3 separate regions of the Homo sapiens genome follow, and regions 1 and 3 are each linked to region 2. The links come from fine-mapping of genetic effects on gene expression. A gene starts in region 2. Each other region holds a variant in brackets. All regions are shown on one strand. Distances are from middle to middle. Region 1 overlaps ZNF286A-TBC1D26 (ZNF286A-TBC1D26 readthrough (NMD candidate)). Region 2 holds the start of ZNF286A (zinc finger protein 286A). Region 3 overlaps NCOR1 (nuclear receptor corepressor 1).

Region 1 (2,853 bases), 29 kb before region 2:
AACAAGACTACAGAAAGCAATGAAAGCAACACTAAACTGGGAGTTTGCTGGCCTGTGTTTCTAAGAAATTTAATGTTTTTACATAAATAATGAAGAAGAAACGACTTTTCTAAAGTTCCTGTCATTTATGCCATGGATTGGACTCTTCTGTGAAAGCAGTTTTATTGATGGATGTGGATAATTAGCTTAACTTCAAGTAAAAGATTAGAGAGCAAATTGTAAACATAACTGTGCTTTTTTACACTCAAATGACATTAATCAGACAGTTTTGGATCTCTAGAAATATATATTAGAACATGTAAGTTCTATATTGAAATACGCAAGTTTGGAATCCTTCAGGTGGCTTATTTTTCATCAACTAGAAATAATACTAAAATTGCAAAGATTTATTATGATTTATATTATTTGTCCTAATGGAAAAAGGAATTCAAATATGTTTATTAAAGTATAATATACACAGGAATCCTATTATTCTACTACTCAGTGATTTATCACAAAGAGGACACATGCTTGGAGCTACCACACAGTCCAAGAAAATGAAATAAAAATAACAATCTGGAAATCCCTCTCCTGAAGGTCTGCTCCCTAACCACTGCCCACCTGTCTTGTCAAAGCAAAGAGTCACCTGGTTTTTAGCAGCCCCAATTAGTGTTGTCTGTTTCATAAATGGAAGCATGGAGGGCCATTCAGTAGGAATGGTTTTGTGTGTGGCTTCTTTGGCCCAGCATTACATTTGTGACACTCCTTCAAGTGGTTTCATGAAGCAGTTCATTTTTTTTTTTTTTTTTTGAGATGGAGTTTCGCTCTGTCGGCCAGGCTGGAGTGCAGTGATGCGATCTCGGCTCACTGCAAGCTCTGCCTCCCAGGTTCACACCATTCTCCTGCCTCAGCCTCCCGAGTAGCTGGGACTTACAGGCGCTTGCCACCATGCCCAGGTAATTTTTTTGTATTTGTAGCAGAGATGAGGTTTCACTGTGTTAGCCAGGATGGTCTCAATCTCCTGACCTAGTGATCCATCCGCCTCAGCCTCCCAAAGTGCTGGGATTACAGGCGTGAGCCACCGTGCCCGGCCCAAGCAGTTCATTTCTTTTCCCTGCTCGGTGGTGCTCTGCATGAATATGGCACATCTATCAATTCTACTGTTGATGGACATTGGTTTGTTTCCATTTTGGGACTACTAGCAATAAAGCCACTATGAACATTCTTGTTAATTT[C/T]TTTTGGTACACATGTATAGATATTTTAGTTAAGTACAGCCCTACAAATAAAATAGCTTGGTCATGGTAACTGCATATGTTCAAATGCAACGCATGTCACTAAAAATGTCAGCTAGGAGGAAAAGCTCAAGAGCTCTATTGTACAACATGTTGACTACAGTTAATAACAATGTGGTAATACTTGAAATTTTTGAGACAGCAGATTTTAAATGTTCTCACCACAAAAAAAAAAGATAAGTATCTGAGGTAACTGATATGCTAGGTAGCTTGATTTAGCCATTCTACAATGTCTGTCTGTTGCTATACATATATATACACAGATTTAGCTATTCTACAATGTGTGTGTGTGTGTGTGTATGTAAAATGTGGTATAGCATAAATACATACAATTTATCAATTAAATTTTAATTCCAAAGATTTTTTTGACTAATATATAACCCAACCACAAGTTTGAGAGTTCTAATTAGATGTCCTTTCCAACACCTGATTTTGTCAGTCTTCCTTTTACATATTCTGGTTAGTGGATAATGTTATTTCGTTTTCATTTATTTTGGTCTTCTGATTATTAAAAGGCCTGATACCACTTTCATAAATGTTTATTGAAAATGTATATAATCAGGCTGGGCACGGTGGCTCATGCTTGTAATCCCAGTACTTTGGGAGGCCGAGGTGGGCGGATCTCTTGAGGTCCGGAGTTCGAGACCAGCCTGGCTAACATGATGAAACCCCGTCTCTATTAAAAATACAAAAAAAAATTAGCTCGCCATGGTGGCAGGCGCCTGTAATCCCAGCTACTCGGGAGGTTGAGGTGGGAGAATTGCTGGAAACCGGGAGGCAGATGTTGCAGTGAGCCAAGAACGTGCCACTGCACTCCAGCGCGGGGGACAAGAGCGAAACTCGCATGGTGGTGCGTACGCCTGTAATCCCAGCTACCCAGGAGGCTGAGGCAGGAGAATCGCTTGAACCCGGTAGGCAGGTTGCAGTGAGCCGAGATTGCGCCATTGCACTCCAGCCTGTGCTTCAAGAGCGAAACTCCGTCTCAAAAAAACAACAAAAAAAGAAAATGTATATAATCATATTTTCAGGGGTCTATGCAATTTTTTATACTTTTTCCAATGTGGTTATCAATCTTTCTAAATGATCTTCGAGAAGTTTTTAAAAATAAATTCTTGACATAAATTTTTGGGATTTTGTCAGTTAAAGGTGGAAATATCTTCTCTTTAAGAAAGAGCTTGGCTGGGCGTGGTGGCTCACGCCTGTAATCCCAGCATTTTGGGAGGCCGAGGCGGGCTGATCACGAGGTCAGATCGAGACCATCGTGGCAAACACGGTGAAACTCCATCTCTACTAAAAACTACAAAAAAAAATTAGCCGGGCATGGTGGCGGGCGCCTGTAGACCCAGCTACAGGCTGAGACAGGAGGCAGGAGAGGAGGCTGAGACAGGAGAATGACGTGAGCCCGGGAGGCGGAGCTTGCAGTGAGCGGAGATCGCACTCCAGCCTGGGCGACAGAGCCAGACTCAGTCTCAAAAAAAAAAAAAAAAAGAAAGAAAGAAAGAAAAGGAAAAAACAAAGAGCTTATTAGGCCGGGCACGGTGGCTCACGCCTATAATCCTAGCACTTTGGGAGGCCGAGGCCG
Region 2 (2,702 bases):
AAACACTAAATAGGGAAGAAATCCATCCAGTGTTATAAGTAGAAAACATTTTCTTCTGAGTCCATTAGTCTCCTGACTAGTCTCTTAGATTTAGAACTCAGCTCTGCAGATGGGCTTTAGTGGATAAAGAAACTCCACATCACAAAGAAGGGAGTGCATCTGTACTCTAAGAAACAAGGTGTAATTCCAATAATCAGCACTCACTCACCTGGGATCTGGCCGTGAGGCGCAGAGCAGCCACTTCTCCCTCTTCTGTGCTCTTCTCTTGGAAATGGGGAGAATCCTGGGAAGACAGAGCTAACGACAAGAAAGCAGTAATGATGAGACCTAGGCTTAACGTGCCACTCAGATTTAAAGTCTAAAAACCACTTCAACATACTATATGTGCTGCCTACAAACACTGAGACTGAAGGTACCCCCAAAACAACCGACCTCCTCCCAGGACCCTCTTCCCGGGATATGCGGGAATATTGCTACTCTGGGCTCGAATTCAGTTGCTATAATCATAACACATTCTGTAAGATGGCATCCTCTGATCTAGAAATTAGAATATGTCAGTAAATTTCCCAGTTTAATCTATACTCGTTGGTTCTCACTCTGAAAGCTTATTTATAATGTAGATTGCTGGACCCCACCTCAAAGTAATAAGCATTAGTTGAGCCTGGGGTACAATCCAGAAATCTAACAACCACCCCAGGGGGAATTCTGGTGTAGGAGGTCACAGCACAACCTTCATGAAACTGGTCAGGTAGAATGGAAGTCAGTCATTAACTACTACGCCTGTTTTCTCCTATGTAAAACAAAACATTTTTGACAACCAAAGAGGTGAATTCTTGCCATAGAAGTTAACATTTCACTCACATTTTGGGGGTAGCTTTGAAGGGTCCACTGTGTGCCCAGCTGCCATGGAAAGGGCGGTGCTCCCATACCAAGCCCTTCAGTCTCACTTAAAAAGCCCATCCATCCCCAAGACAATGGAGACAGCCAGCCAAGAGCCACCTCCCCTGAGCCAACCGTTTTCCCTTCAGGAGCAGGAATTTCGTCCTTCCACGCTACAAGTTCAACACGTCCGCAATTCTCACCTCCTTTCTCAGGCATTTCAGCCAAATCTGTCTCCATGATCACCACCTCCTCCTTGTTCTGGAGATTCTGCTCTTCACCCCAATTCAGATCTCCCTGGCCAGACGAGTTAGAAGCCCCCCGGGCCTCGTGGTCCCACTTCCTGCCTTCCCTCCTGGGCTCTGATGAAAGGCCTGGGTTAGATCGGGTCTCTTTCTCACCGTGGAGTCTGCCTCAGTCCTACGGCGCTGGAGCCTGGAAGCCCGGGGACAGCATCCCTGAGGCTGGGTCCTCAGATGTCTGTCCCTACCGCTTGAAGCTGTCCCTGGGGGAACCGGGCACCTGGAAGAGGTGACGCTGGGGCATCAGGAGTTTGGACAAATTCTGCCGCGCTCGGGGCACTGGCCCAGAACCCCGCGACCACCCCGCCCGTGGCACAACCGCGTCCCCCGAGGAGAGGATCAGGCCAGAGTGAGAAGGGACAGGGCTCATGGTCTGCCCTCGAGGCCCCTTTAACAAACGCGCACTCTAGCCCCGACTCGGCACAGAACGACCCGGGGAACCACCGCCGAGGCCGAGCCGAGACGAGCGACATCACCACAAGCAACTCACCTCCCATCCCGGGCCTCACAAAGGGGACGAACTTCTTTGGCCAGCTCGGAGTCGCGCATGCGTAAGAAGGAGCGGAGCCAGGCGTGCTGCCCTCATCCCGCCCGGAACTACAATTCCCAGAAGCGCCTTGGCATCGCCAGACTCCGGTTCTCCGCAGGTGGGAGCACCCGTGGTGCGGCTGGGAGAATCGGACGATCGAAGAGCTCCGTCCGTCTCGCGAGAGTATGAGGCAGCATCTCCTGTGTCTAATCCTCAGAGCAAGGGAGGGAGGGAGCAGCGGAGACGCGGACCGGAGTCAGGGTCCGTCCCCGCGCTTTGTCTGCACAAGTTCCTGCGGCACAGTGCTTAGGGCTGCTGAGTTCAACCCAAATTACTCCGGTGTAAGATACGTTAAAATACATAGCTTTTATCCATATTTTGTGCGCCCAGAACTCATCCTTTTGCTTTCAAAACATACGAAGGATGTTTTTAGGAAGAGCAGGTCCCTCTTTGTACACTCAGTCAGATGTTCCTGTATCCACAGACTACTTGTAATCCTAAAATTCATGTATTTAAAATGAGTTGAAAAGATTGAACCTGTTGTAACAAATTTAAGCAATAGGTTCTTTGCAGACATAAGCATTAGTTTAAACATATCATAAAAGGTGGTTCTTTCAAGGGAGAGTTATTCAGTCTCTCCAATTCTGTTAGAGGACTAACCCATCCACCTCCAGCTTCGTGTCTAGACTGCCCTCCTTTTCTCAGTGAATGACATTACTGCCCACTCACTCATTTGCACAAACCAGAGCCTGAATATTCTTAACTCTTTGATCTCACCATCTATTTATCACCAAGTCCTATTCATTGTATCTTAAATAACTCAATTGTTTCCATCTTTCTCTATTCTCAGTAGCATTACCTTAGTTGGGGCCACCACCATTTCACTAGGATTGCCGTTGCAGCCTGGTAACTGGATTCCCTAACTAAGGTTTTCTCTACCACCAATCTGTTCTCCACACTTTCTGGCTAGTGCTCTTTCTAAAACAAGAATA
Region 3 (2,500 bases), 490 kb before region 2:
TAACTACCTTTATACTTGCTTTGATTTCATGATGTTGTTCAGTTTTTGGTTAATAATTGATTTATGATTATTTTAATACTAGGAGTTCGCAGTCCCTGATTATCGTTCCTCTCATCTTGAAGTGAGTCAGGCATCACAGCTTTTGCAGCAACAGCAGCAGCAACAGCTTCGAAGGCGACCTTCCTTGCTTTCAGAATTTCACCCAGGTTCTGACAGGTAATGAGGTTTCTTTTATGTTTCTATCTAGGATTATAATTGTGAAGTATACAAGTTTGTCATTATTTTATTTTTTTACTTTTTATTAACCAAGCCATGACTGGTCATTTATAGTTTGCATTTTGAGTTCTTTTTTGTTGGTTGGTTGCAATAGTTAACAAGCTCTTAAAACTTGTTTCCATAGTTTGGCATTAATATTATTTAGTAGAAAGGCAGTAAACCACCTGGTCACCTGTGTGTCCTTGGTTATGTTCTATAGACTTGGGCTGCACATTAGAACCCCTTGGGATGCCCAAGCCTCATCACAAAACACTTAAATCAATCTCTGGAGTTGGGCCCAGGCTTTATTTTATCGCCGAAGTTTTTCCGGTAATTCTGATTTGCAGCTAGGGTTGCCAGTCACTGATCTCAACTCTTCAAGCTTTAGTTTTCCCTCCTATAAAAATGGAGATAATAGTGGCATTGTCCTCAACTGATAGTAAATATTCTGTCAGATAATGTAGGTCCTGTACATGCATGGTGGGTTCTCTTTTTCCTGAGTGTCCTTACCATCTCTGCTTTCTTTTACTTCATTCTCATTCTGAAAGTTTTGTTTGTTTTTTCTTGTTTTTTGGAGACAGGATCTTTCTAGCTCTGTTGCCCAGGCTGGAGTGCAGTGGCATGATCATGGCTCATTGCAGCCTCAACCTCCTGGGCTCAAGTGATTCTCCCACCTTAGTCTCCCAGT[C/G]CTGGCTAATTTTTTGTATTTTTTGTAGAGATAGGATTTCGCCATGTTGCCCAGGCTAGTCTTGAACTCCTGAGCTCAAGTGATCCACCCACCCCTACCTCCCAAAATAGTTAATTCTTTTTTTTTTTTTTTTTTTTTTTTTTGAGAAAGAGTCTCACTCTTGTCACCCAGGCTGGAGTGCAGTGGCATGATCTCAGCTCACTGCAACCTCCGTCTCCAGGGTTCAAGTGATTCTCATGCCTCAGCCTCCTAAATAGCTGGGATTACAGGCATACACACCACACCCAGCTAACTTTTGTGTTTTTAGTAGAGATGGGGTTTTGCCGTGTTGACCAGGCTGGTCTTGAATTCTGGGCCTCAAGTGATCTGCCCGCTTTGGCCTCTCAAAGTGTTGGGATCATAGGCATGAGCCACTGCACCTCGCCAGAATTTTTTTTTTTAAATTGTGTGTATTTAAGGCATACAACATGATGTTATGGGATACGTATAGATAATAAAAAGGTCACTATGGTGAAGCAAATTAGCATATCCATCATCTCACAAAGTTATTTATTTTTGCTTTTGTTTTTATTTTTGCTTTTGTGGCTGGACCGACTAAAATCTACTCATTTATCATGAATCCCAGATACAGCACTATATTATTATCTGTAGTCCTCATGTTGTACATAAGAAATCTAGACTTTTTCATTCTATGTGTCTGCTACTTTACATCCTCTGACTTTCGTCTCCCCATTTTCTTTCCACCCCCTGCCCCTGGTAACCACTGTTAGCACTGTTTTGTTCTCTTTGTATAGTTCCTTTTTTTTTTTTTTTTTTTTGTTTAAGATTCCACATATAAGCGAAATCATGCAATATTTTACTTTCTGTGTCAGGTTTATTTCACATAGCATAATGTCCTTCAGGCTTATCCATGTTGTGGATGGCAAGATCTCATTTTTTTTTAGGGTTGAATAATATTCCATAGTGTATATATACCACAGTTTCTTTATGATTCATTCATTGACAAACACTTAGATTGTTTTTATATCTTGGCTATTGTGAATAATTAGCTGCAATAACATGGGAGTGCATTTACCTTTACAAGATGGTGATTTCATTTCCCTTGGGTATATATCCAGAAGAAGGATTGTGGGGTCATGTGGTAGTTCTATTTTTAATTGCTTTAGGAACTTTCATACTGTTTTCCATAATGGTTGTACTAATTTACGTTACCACCAGCAGTGTACAAGAGTTCTCTTTTCTTCATGCCCTCATTAATATTTGTTATCTTTTGACTTTTTTTGGTAATAGGCATCCTAATGGGTGTGAGAATATCTCATAGTGCTTTTAATATACAGTTCCCTGATGACTAATGATACTGAACATCTTTTCATATACCTGTTGGTGATTTTTACGTTTTCTTTTGAGAAATGTCTATTCAGATCTTCTGCCCATTTTAAAATCAGGTTATTTGTTTTTCTGCTATTGAGTTTTATGAGTTCTTTATAAATTCTGGATATTAATTCCTTAGCAGATGCATAGTTTACAAATATGTTTTCTGTGTCTACAGGCTGCTGA

Evidence for each region. PIP is the estimated chance that this variant, and not a neighbour inherited with it, causes the effect.
Region 1: its variant is the best candidate, but not a certain one, in a credible set for the expression of ZNF286A in whole blood (INTERVAL, PIP 0.78).
Region 3: its variant is the best candidate, but not a certain one, in a credible set for the expression of ZNF286A in whole blood (INTERVAL, PIP 0.58).

The regions. Positions count from the first base shown.
Region 1 is chr17:15,727,383-15,730,235 of GRCh38, reverse strand. The region is part of intron 6 of ZNF286A-TBC1D26 (ZNF286A-TBC1D26 readthrough (NMD candidate)); the gene reads right to left. Among named protein-coding and RNA genes, the nearest start is that of TBC1D26, 3.5 kb to the left of the region's middle. The variant C/T (reference allele first, on the strand shown) is at 1,215.
Region 2 is chr17:15,698,747-15,701,448 of GRCh38, reverse strand. It overlaps ZNF286A (zinc finger protein 286A), which reads right to left and starts at 1,697. Exons shown (of 6, transcript NM_001130842.2): 1 at 1,672-1,697; 2 at 1,083-1,314; 3 at 209-297. The coding sequence starts at 1,119. It overlaps ZNF286A-TBC1D26 (ZNF286A-TBC1D26 readthrough (NMD candidate)), which reads right to left and starts at 1,697. Exons shown (of 23, transcript NR_171000.1): 1 at 1,672-1,697; 2 at 1,083-1,401; 3 at 209-297. RefSeq lists enhancers at 1,574-1,893, 1,904-1,953, 1,389-2,000.
Region 3 is chr17:16,184,270-16,186,769 of GRCh38, reverse strand. It overlaps NCOR1 (nuclear receptor corepressor 1), which reads left to right. Exons shown (of 46, transcript NM_006311.4): 3 at 83-216. Among named protein-coding and RNA genes, the nearest start is that of NCOR1, 30 kb to the left of the region's middle. The variant C/G (reference allele first, on the strand shown) is at 944.